3 linked regions of the Homo sapiens genome follow. The protein of the gene in region 3 purifies or fractionates together with the protein of the main gene of each other region. This does not show direct contact. Each region holds a gene or a part of one and is shown on either strand. Other genes may lie near its edges. The genes, in order: PEAK1, MYO5C and DQX1.

Region 1 (3,752 bases), on a different chromosome or scaffold from region 3:
GGGGCTCCGACCCCACATTTCCCTTTCACACTGCCCTAGCAGAGGTTCTCCATGAGGGCCCGACCCCTGCAGCCAACTTCTGCCTCAGCATCCAGGTGTTTTCATACATCCTCTGAAACCTAGGCAGAGGTTCCCAAACCCCAGTTCTTGACCTCTGTGCACTCACAGGCTCAACGCCACATGGAAGCTGCCAAGGCTTGGGGCTTGCACCCTCTGAAGCCACAGCCTGAGCTCTACAGTGGCCCCTTTCAGCCATGGCTGGAGTGGTTAAGATACAGGGCACCAAGTCCCTAGGCTGCACACAGCAAGGGGACCCTGGGCCTGGCCCACGAAACTACTTTTTTCTCCTAGGCCTTCGGGCCTCTGATGGGAGGGTCTGCCGTGAAGACCGTTGACATGCCCTGGAGAAATATTTCCCATTGTCTTGGGGATTAACCTTCAGCTCCTCGTTACTTATGCAAGTTTCTGCAAATTTCTGCAACCAGCTTGAATTTCTCTTCAGAAAAATGGTATTTTATTTTCTATCACATTGACAGGCTGCAAATTTTCTGATTTTTATTTTATTTTTATTTTTATTTATTTATTTTTTTGGAGACGGGGTCTCACTCTGTCACCAATACTGGAGTACAGTGGCATGATCCCGGCTCACTGCAACCTCCACCTCCGAGGTTCAAGCGATTCTCCTGGCTCACCCTCCTGAGTAGCTGGGACTACAGGTGTCTGCCACCACACCTGGCTAATTTTTGTATTTTTAGTAGAGACAGGGTTTCACCATGTTGGCCAGGCTGGTCTCAAACTCCTGACCTCAAGTGATCCACCTGCCTCAGCCTCTCAAAGTGCTGGGATTACAGGCATGAGCCACTGCGCCAAACCAAATTTTCTGAACTTTTATGCTCTGCTTCCCTTATAAAACTGAATGCCTTTAACAGCACCTAGGTCACCTCTTGAATGCTTTGCTGCTTAGAAAATTCTTCTGCCAGATACCCTAAGTCTTCTCTCTCAAGTTCAAAGTTCCACAAATCTCTAGGGCAGGGCCAAATTGCTCCAGTCTCTTTGCTAAAACATAACAAGAGTTACCTTTGCTCCAGTTCACAACGAGTTCCTTATCTCCATCTGAGACCACCTCAGCCTGGACCTTATTGTTCATATCACTATCAGCACTTTTGTCAAAGCCATTCAACAAGTCTCCAGGAAGCTGCAAACTTTTCCACATTTCCCTGTCTTCTTCTGAGCCCTCCACACTGTTCTAACCTCTGCCTGCTACCTAGTTCCAAAGTTGCTTCCACATTTTCGGGTATCTTTTCAGCAACACCCCACTCTACTGGTACCAATTTACTGTATTAGTCCATTTTCACACTGCTGATAAAGACATACACGAGACCAGGCAATTTACAAAAGAAAGAGATTTATTGGACTTAACAGTTCCACATGGCTGGGGAGGCCTCACAATCATGGCAGAGAGCAAGGAGGAGCAAGTCACATCGTATGTGGATGGCAGCAGGCAAAGAGAGAGAACGTGTGCAGGGGAACTCCTCTTTTTAAAACCCTCAGATCTCATGAGACTTATTCTCTATCATGAGAACAGTACGGGAAAGACCTGTGCTGACTCAGTTACCTCCCACTGGGTCCCTCCCACAACATGTGGGAATTCAAGATGAGATTTGGGTGGGGACACAGCCAAACCATATCAAGTAATTAACATTGTGTTATAATTGCCCACAGTATTCAGTACAGTACCATGTTGTACAGGTTTGTAGCCTATAAGCAGTGGGCTATACCATATGGCCTAGGTGTGTAGTAGGCTGTACCATCTAGGTTCGTGTAAGTACACTCTATGATTTTTGCGTAATTATGAGATTGCCTAACTCTCTCAGAACTTATCCCTGTCATAAGCAACACTTACTATTACAATCCCAGATTATATTGGTGCTTACCGTTGACATGCTGCAAGGACGTGATTTTAACAAAACAAACCACCACCCCTATTCATTGTCATCCTCAGCACCATCCAGCACCTTCTACTCTATATGAACAATAGTAGGAGAATGTATGAGTTTCCTAGGACTGCTGTAAAAAAGTACCACAAATGGGTGGCTTAGAACAACACAAATATATTCTCTCACAGTTATGGAGGCTAGGAGTCTGAAATCAAGGTGTCAGCAGGACTGTGTTCCCTCTGAGACAGTGGGTAGATTCCTTTCTTGCCTTTGTCTGGCATCTGGTAGTGGCCATCAATGCTTGGTATTCCTTAGTCTGCACCTGTGTCACTCCAGACTCTGCCTCCAATGTCATGTAGTGTTTTCCCTCTCTGTCCCTGTCTTTACATGGTGTTTTTTCTTCTTATAAGGACATCAGCCATATTGGATTAGGGCCCGTCCTAATGACCTCATCTTAACTATTAAATCTACAGACTTCCAACAGGTCACATTCATAGGTACCAGGGGTTAGCACTTCAACATACCTTTTTGGGGGATATAATTCAACCCATAACAGAGCCTTATAACTCTGAGATCTTGAGTAGAGGCCTCATTTTAATAACAGAACTAATTTTTAATAGCCTTTATAGAAGTTTCATGTATATTTTTCTGTCTTTAAAAAATAATGTGTTCTCTCTGTTATACAATAAGCCCTGAAGGTATATTCAAACACACATGTGTTTTATCTTTTTCTAATCATAAATGCTGGAAACTAAGCACAGATGAATGGTTCTCTAACTAGGGCTTATAAAAGATGTTGAAAGATAGTATCTCTCAAATCACAATGTATATGCCCACCAAAATAAAAGAGAATCACATAAGAGTTTGGGAATTCGTGTTCAGAACAGAAGTTGACTGCTCATATACACTGTTCCCCTTACCACAATCACAGGAATCTTTTACGTAGACCAGTTTAAGCAATGTCAGAATCCATCTCTATAGTAAAATAAATAGCATGGCTTTTGAAATTGTATTCATGTGTTGGAAAATGTTATATGCATGACAAATGCTATATATAATACAATGTAACTTTGGAATAAAAAGAACAGAATAGTATCTTCTGAGCCCCTGTCTAATGGTCACATTGCTAGTTTCAATTCTGTTTGTAATAAAGCTCCCAAGTATTTTCTTTATCCACAATGCTATCATCTCTACTCTGTCACAATCCAAGTATATTCGAGTGTCTGTCATCCCTTAATATTCTGGTGTGGTGAATATATAGCACTCTGAAGGGTGGGACTGGAGAATCTGGTTTCCTTTTTGAAAACAAAACTCATCACCCAAACCAGTGCCCTGTTCCTAGACAAGGCCAAGACATTATGCATATTTGTCGTTCCCACCAAGGCTTGGATACTTCAATGTTTAGGTATTTGTTCTTTGGTTGTTCTCTTTTCCCATTTTGAACTAAAGAGTTGACTTATTCTTACATTCCCATGGCTACCTCACTCATTTCTGCTCAAGTTTCAGTTATAAAATTAGATTGAAAACTTTACTTACTCTTTTCTTTTTATTGCTTTAAAAACAATACAGGGCAATCTAGAGCAGCCATGATACCTCCCAAGCAGCCACGACAGCCCAAGGGAGCTGTGGACGATGCCATCGCCTTTGGAGGGAAAACAGACCAAGAAGCACCCAATGCTTCCCAACCTACACCACCCCCACTGCCAAAGAAGATGATCATAAGAGCCAATACAGAGCCAATCTCCAAGGACCTCCAAAAATCCATGGAAAGTAGTCTTTGTGTCATGGCTAATCCCACCTATGATATCGACCCCA
Region 2 (3,752 bases), on a different chromosome or scaffold from region 3:
GAAATACTGTCACCTCAAATAGGTTCAGCAGCAGCATTTTTCTCTGTCCTCCAAAGTATCGTCGAAGACTAGTCCAAGACTTTTCTTTCACTTCCAGTAAACTGAAGGCTGAAGAAGCGCTGTTGGCTGTCTGAGGGCTCACAGTCTCACTGGTGAAAATATTCTAGAACAAAACTAGGGCAATTCAAACACTGTCCATTTAGAACTCCAGTTAATGGAGATGCAATAGAGGAGAAACTACAGTTCGGTTGCTTTGTGTCCGGACTGTTACTAAGTAATCAAAGTAGAAGAAAAACGTTTGCTTAAACCATTGAAACATGATTTTTTAAATAACTATCTTTTCTATCTACAGCAAAAGCATCTTTTAAAGTAGAAAGCTAGAGCATGTGTCCGGGGAAATGGATGGATTCTAGTTCCACTCGTCTGAATACTGAGGTCTCTAGATTTCCCCAACTGGTGTATAGGAGGATCAGGCTTTATGGCTATTCAAATGGATTTTTTTTTTCAAAAGTGCTAACACTGTCACACTCTTTATCCAAATAATTACCCAAGCCCATCTCAGAGGGTTTGGGACATATGTGGGAACGCTGCCCTTCCGAGGTAAGAGGTGGAGCCCCAGCCAGCAGAAAGGAAGCTTCTGAGGAATGCTCTAGTGTTTCCCAGAGTCAGGGTATATGAAAGGCGCTTTAGAAACTGTGGTGTTTGTACTGTTGCTAACAGTACAGATGTTAGGCAAAGAGCCTACGACTGCACCTCGTGGCCCCTGGGCTCCCCAAGCGCTTGGTGCCACTGCAGTGCCCTCAAGCCTGTGACCCAGGCTGCTTCAGCTTCTGATGAGCCTACATGCACGTTCACGCACTTTGAAGACACAGAATTCTAGAAAGCAGCCCGAACACTGCGGCCATAAGCTTCTATGCCAGCTCGTTCAAGGGGGTCCCAGGAGGGGCCAGGAGACTGGCCGGCGTCTCAGCTTCCTACGTCCGCATGGGCAACTCTGATTCCACCCGTGGTGTGGTAGGAAGGGACCGAGGCGCTCCAGTCCCGGGAGATGGGGACGCACGCGCGACCCCTGGGCACTGGGGATTCTAGGCCCCGAGGCCGGAGCGGCGGAGGGGGCGGCCCCTCCCACAGGGTCTTCCCACCCACAGGGCACCCAGGCGCAGCGGAGCCAGGAGGGGGCTTACCCGCGGGCAGGGACGGAGCACGCCGGGGCCCTGGAGGGGCGACGCTCGCTCGTGTCCCCGGTCCCCGTGGCCCCTCCGCGGCGCCTCCGCGGCCCCCAGCGCGCGCCCGCCCGCCCTGCCGTGTCAGGTGCGCAGGTGTGGCAGGTGTGGCCCGGGCGCCAGGTCGAGTCAGCGTTAGCAGGGCCGGCTCCCCCACAGCGCTCCCAGGAGCCCAGCGGACCCTCCTACCTGCGTGTACAGCTCGGCCACCGCCATGGGCAGGAGGGGCCGGGGCCAGGCCGGGGCTGCCGAACGTGCGAGGCTCGGGGGCTGGGCCTGCGCCGCAGAGGCCGGGCGCAGGAGAGACCGCCGCGGAAATCACCGCCGGGCCATCTTGCCCAAAGTTTTCCAACGGCCTCCTGTTCCCGTTCCCGAGTTGGCGGCGAGGGGAGGGGGCAGCGGCGGGATTGGTCCCTCCAAGCTTGGCCCGGCTAGTCGGCGCTGCCATTGGCCGGGGCCGGGCGGCTGCACCTGGCGGGAGCGCGGGTGGAGAAGGTTGGGGCCCGGGGCGCGCTGCCAGGCAGGAACAGATGCATCCGGAGGCTGCCCGGCCCGAGTGTTAGCTCCTCAAAGAGCAGAGGATACGACCATTTAAATGGAAGACCCAAGGGAATCAACGTACTGAACACAAAGAAATGTGTTAAGAGTCCAGCAAGGTCATCGTATTCAAAATCAAATACAAAAATAAGTAATGGTCCTTTATATGAGCATTGTCTATGCAATACAAGATATTTACAATATTAGTGAAAATATAAAGTATCCAGAGATTACACTCGCAAAAATGCCCTTGGCCTTTGTGGAGAAAATGTTTAAAATTCTCTTAAAGAGCTTAAAAGAAGGCCCAGGTAAACGGGAGACATGCCATTTTCCTGGCTGGGAATATTTAATATGGTCAAGGTGTCACTTCTACCCAAATCAATATATATGCCTAATATATTGGCGTCAGAATCCTACAGAACTTTTGGAGAATTGTACAATGATTCTATATTTCATATAGAATAAAAGCCCTGTATAACTAAGACAATTCTCAAAGAGGAGAGATTTGTCCTGCCATATATTTAGGGACATAACAAAGCAGTAGTCATTAAAACAGTGTGACACTTGCGTGAGAACGGATACGTGAGTAATGGAACATGCTGGAGCCCCCCAGCAGGGCCCTACATTATACGGTAGCCTTAAGGACCAGATAGGGAAATAAAATAATATTTATTAGATGGGCCCGTTATATGGAAAAACAATAAAAGCAGATCCGTGGCAAACACTGCATCCAAAAATAAGCTCCAGATGGATTCACGATTAAAACTTAAAACCGGGAAATTATTAGGAATAAAAGAGGGATAATATCTTTAAAATGTTGGGTTATAGTAGTTTCCATATAGAAGAATTGTTAATCGGTTAAAGAAAAGAAATCCAATTTTTAAAACTGACAAAAATTAATAGGCAATTCACAGATGGGGACACTTAAATGGCTTGTTAGCATACAAGGAGATGTCAACTTTAGCAGTAATCAGATAAATACAAATGAAAACAACAATGAGATATTGCTTTTTACCCATCATATTGGCAAAAACATTTAGGTTAGACAATCTCAGATACTGCCTAGGATGTGAGAAAATAAAAACTTGGCCGGGCGCGGTGGCTCACGCCTGTAATCCCAGCACTTTGGGAGGCCGAGGCGGGCGGATCACGAGGTCAGGAGATCGAGACCATCCTGGCTAACACGGTGAAACCCCGTCTCTACTAAAAATACAAAAAATTAGCCGGGCGAGGTGGCGGGCGCCTGTAGTCCCAGCTACTCGGGAGGCTGAGGCAGGAGAATGGCGTGAACCCCAGGGGGCGGAGCCTGCAGTGAGCCGAGATTGCGCCACTGCACTCCAGCCTGGGCGACAGAGCGAGACTCCGTCTCAAAAAAAAAAAAAAAATAAATAAAAAAAATAAAAACTTTTTTTGCTTACATAACTGGTGGGAATATACTGCCATCCTGGAGAGCAATTTGAGAATAGTTATGAAAATAAATGTAGGCAGAAAAATTCTCACAGTCACCCAAAGAGACAGTTAAGTAGATGTTCATCACAACATAGTTATTTATCAAAGAGTTGGAAGCATCTAAATATCAATAGGGGAATAAATAAAATAGTATATACATGGCAGACAGCAGAGAAAAATAAAAAAAGAAATAGTATATACATGTAAAACTCTACAGCTGTTAGTAGGAATAGACATGATCTACTTGACTCAGAAATAAAAAACAATGTTGAATAGATGTCTAGCCCAAGTCTTTAATATTTAAAAACTCACAAAAACTGCAATACTGAATATTGTTCATGGGTACAAGTATGTGTGAATAGAGGTAAGGAGGATAAATTACAAAGTCATTCATTAAATATGCAAGAGTGGATACCTATGAGGGAGAGAAATGGAATCGGAGATTTCAAAAAGGGGATCAAAAAATATAAAGAGAGGCCTGGCATGGATCAATAATGATAAATGCCACAAAGAGAGGATCATGGTAAATTTAATTTTGCATTT
Region 3 (3,752 bases):
GTAGGGACAAGGGAAGTTCAATTCGTTGCATGAGTTCTAGGAGTTCTCCCCGAAGTTTATGGGCTTGGCACAATGCTGCCCAATTCAGACCTCGAGCCTGGCACCAAGCCTCATCTGCTCCACCTAGGAGAGGAAAGGGACCAGCTAAACTAAAGTCCTTGAGACCCCTGAAATAACCCAACCCTTAGCCAAAGGGCCTCCTCTTTCTGAGCATAGAGATCTGTCAGCTGGCTGCATAAAATTTCCCCTCTTTGGAAAATCTGGGATTCTATAAAAGGATGCAGAACTCACTTTGTATAAAGGCTTCATACACCTGGATCAGAGAACTGTGGTCACCATCCGTGTGTTCCAGGGCCCGACGCAGGGCAGCTTCTTCTGCACTGAGTGGAGGACGGGTAAACCCAGGGGCAGCTGGAGGCAGAAGAGTGGAAGGTAGAATCTGCCATTTGGGAAATGGGAAGGGATAGTAGTACAGGTAGAATGCTGAAAAGGCAGAAGTGTCCCTTTGGGAACTTTATTCAAAAGACATAGATAACTTCTAGGTGCTATGCACTTTATTAAACATTGAGGATAAGTAAATGAAATACAGTCTCTGCCATCAAGGAGCTTCAAGTCTGGTGGGAGAGACCAACAGGTAAGCAGACTTGATAAGCATGATAGGTGTTTGTATATGGTACTGTGGAAACAAAGAGGAGGATACCTAATCCAGGCTTTAGGTGGTGAGGATGTGAGTGATGTAAGAGAAAACGATGAGGACCCTTGGGCTAGTATTTGAAATTTGAGTAGGAATTAGCCGAGTGGAGACGGGGCAGGGAGTATGTTTTAGACTGTGGCAACAGCATGGCACGTAAGTTAATAATATAGCATATTTGGGGAACTGCAAGCCATCTGGTATGGGTGGAGGGAATGAAATGACGTGGCAGAATGGCAGGAGATAAAGCTGGAGAGGTAGGTATAGGTAAGGTCATGAGAGGCTGGAGTACTGAGGAAAGGAACTGTCTTTAAGGTAAAGAGTAGCTGTAGAGGAAGAGTTGTGGGGTTTTTTTTGTTGTTGTTGTTTGTTTATTTGAGACAGGGTCTCACTCTCTTGCCCAGGCTGGAGTGAAGTGGCGTGATCATGGCCCGTTGCAGCCTCAACCTCCCAGGCTTAAATGATCCTCCTACCTCAGTCTCTTCAGTAGCTGAGACTACAGGCATATGCCACCACACCTGGCTAATTTTTTGTTTTTGTAGAGACAGGGTCTCTCCTATGTTGCCCAGGCTGGTCTCAAACTCCTGACCTCATGTGATCCTCCCATCTCAGCCTCCCAAAGTGCTGAGATTACAGGCACAAGCCACCACGCCTGGCTGAAGAAGAGTTTTTAAGTAAGAGAGTCCATGTGTCTGAAAAAGTTCACATTACTAGTTAGGAGGCTACTGAGGAAAACCAGCTGAGCAATGAGGAGGACCTACCATTGGCAGATCCTACCTACCGTATTCACTGGAAGTGAATATGGAGAAGGACAGATGAATATATTTATATATATATTTACATTTAGGAGATAAAAGTGAAATAACCTGGAGAAAGACTGGTCTAGAGTGATGGTAGCAGAGCAGCAGAGATAATAGTATTATCTGAATCTAAGACTCTAGAGAGAGGAAAAGATTTTGTGGTGATGGTGGTGAGGGAGTGGTTTAATAGAGCATTTGAGTTCAGTTCTGAGCTGAGGTACTGTTAACTATTCTGGTAGAAATGTCCATCAGGGGCTGGGTGCCGAGGCTCAGGCCTGTAATCCCAGCAGTTTGGGAGGCTGAGGTGGATGGATCACCTGAGGTCAGGACTTTGAGACCAGCTTGGCCAACATGGCAAAAACCCGTCTCTACTAAAAATACAAGAATCAGCTGGGCATGGTGGTGCGTGCCTGTAGTCCCAGCTACTTGGGAGGCTGAGGCATGAGAATTGCTTGAACCAGGCAGACAGAGGTTGCAGTGAGCTGAGATCATGCCATTGCACTCCAGCCTGGGTGACAGAGTGAGACTTTGTCTGAAAAAAAAAAAAAAGAAAAAGAAAAAAAGAAACGTTCATCAGGAGTTGGAGTATGCTCTCTCTCTCTCCCTCTCTTTCCCTCTCCCTCTCTCCCCCTCTCCCCCTCTTTCCCTCTCCCTCTCTCCCCCTCTTTCCCTCTCCCTCTCTCCCCCTCTCCCCATGCGTCTCTCCCTTGCTCTCTCTCTGTCTCTCAGATTCGAAGAATGGTATTGGGTGAGAGATACACGGCACAAGGTTTGGAAATTTTAAGGCTAAAGGTAGCACTTCAAACCATGGGTGTGGATAAACTTGCTCAGAGAGTTCAGGGAATAGAAGACAAAAGAGGCAAGAATAGAACCCTGAGGACCAATTTACAATGGATAAGAAGAGGACAAAGAGCTCAAGGAAAAGATAAAGGGGATGACCAGAGACGTAGGATGAAATCCATGAGGAGCAGCGTTACAGAGGCCTAGGGAGGAGGCAGTTTCAAGGTGGAGCGGTCAGCAATCTCAAGTGTCAAAAGAAGGTCATGAATAAGGGTTCAAAAGTATCCACTGGATTAGGTACCTGGAAGGTCACTGGTGAGTTGAAAGCTGTTTCACTGGCATGGTAGACCTGAAGCTGGAGTGCAGTGGGTGAGCAATACACCAGTTAGAACAGGATAGAAATCATGCTGCATAGCTGAAGGGGAGGATAGGGTTGAGGAAGAGGGGTGTGTGAGTTTTAGCAATAACAGATTAGGAGAGATTTAAGCATGCTGAGGGCAAGAACCAGCAGAGAAAAAAGGCTAAAGAGACAAGAGGGAGATGGGTGACTAAGCCTGGTTCTTTAGGCATTGTGAGGGGTGGCAACTGGAGCAGAGAGGAAAGGGCTAGCCTCAGGAGCACCAAAACCCAAGAGGAAGGGCTGAAGTGGTTTCAAGAGCTATGGATTTACAGCAGCGATTTATACCTGTGAGCATGGCAGCCAGGGTGAGCATCTCGTCCACACAGTCAAACTCGCATGAGGCCAGCAGGGCTTTGGCCAGCTCAGGGGCCAGAGGGAATTCTGATAGTATGACACCCAGATCTGACAGGTCCCCATCATCATCCAGGGCTGCCAGATAGTCTAAATCTTCCAGGGCTTGCATCAGTGCTTCTGGAGCTGGTGAGGAAACAGGGCTTACAGGATATGAAGTTTCAGAACTGGGTGGTCAGATGGCAGTGCTTGGGCAGGAGAGGTGCTCACCAGGCTGGTCCAGGAAGTGACACTCCCCTGGCTCTGCAATCTGTCTCCTTTTTAGTAGTAACACCAGGGAGCTCAGATTCTCCTCACACACCCTGGGTTGTGGCAATGGTGGAGCTTCTAGTTCTAAGAAGGACTTAGGATACAGGCAGAGGCAGGATCCTGAGGGGAAAAAGACCTGGGAAAGAAGACCACTGTAGATTTCTCAGGGCTTGCATGTTGGTGACTCTTGGGTTTTTTATTTCAGTGAGGGCAAAGGCTCTTACCTGGTGGGAACCCTCTTGCTCGCAATCGTCTTGCCTCTGCCTGACACTTGCTGATTGGCCTCAACACTTGGAATTCTGCTCGGATCCTAGGATTGTAAACCTGTTGCCCGTCCCCCAACCAAGGCCAAGACAGATCAGAGTGGGCCATTTCTGTCTTTACTACCCCACCGCTATCTCTCTCTCTCACTCACACTTCGGAGCTCCAGTCCTGAGTCGATGACATGTTGGATGGAAGGGAGGGAGAAGGAGAAGTCAGC

What was found.
Region 1: the proteins of DQX1 (region 3) and PEAK1 purify together in Homo sapiens (affinity purification with mass spectrometry; 2 studies listed by BioGRID and IntAct, with this or other methods). This does not show direct contact.
Region 2: the proteins of DQX1 (region 3) and MYO5C purify together in Homo sapiens (affinity purification with mass spectrometry; 2 studies listed by BioGRID and IntAct, with this or other methods). This does not show direct contact.

The regions. Positions count from the first base shown.
Region 1 is NC_000015.10:77,133,505-77,137,256, reverse strand, and holds part of PEAK1 (inactive tyrosine-protein kinase PEAK1), read left to right. Parts: intron 1-3,506; coding exon 3,507-3,752. UniProt on the Homo sapiens protein: Probable catalytically inactive kinase. Scaffolding protein that regulates the cytoskeleton to control cell spreading and migration by modulating focal adhesion dynamics. Acts as a scaffold for mediating EGFR signaling.
Region 2 is NC_000015.10:52,294,198-52,297,949, forward strand, and holds the start of MYO5C (unconventional myosin-Vc), read right to left. Parts: upstream 1,608-3,752; 5' UTR 1,440-1,607; coding exon 1,413-1,439; intron 1,015-1,412; exon of another isoform or gene 687-1,014; intron 1-686. UniProt on the Homo sapiens protein: May be involved in transferrin trafficking. Likely to power actin-based membrane trafficking in many physiologically crucial tissues.
Region 3 is NC_000002.12:74,519,624-74,523,375, forward strand, and holds part of DQX1 (ATP-dependent RNA helicase homolog DQX1), read right to left. Parts: coding exon 3,687-3,752; intron 3,596-3,686; coding exon 3,496-3,595; intron 3,408-3,495; coding exon of another isoform or gene 3,392-3,407; coding exon 3,233-3,391; intron 3,149-3,232; coding exon 2,957-3,148; intron 412-2,956; coding exon 292-411; intron 124-291; coding exon 1-123. UniProt on the Homo sapiens protein: Might be involved in RNA metabolism; it is missing helicase motif III and may not have helicase activity.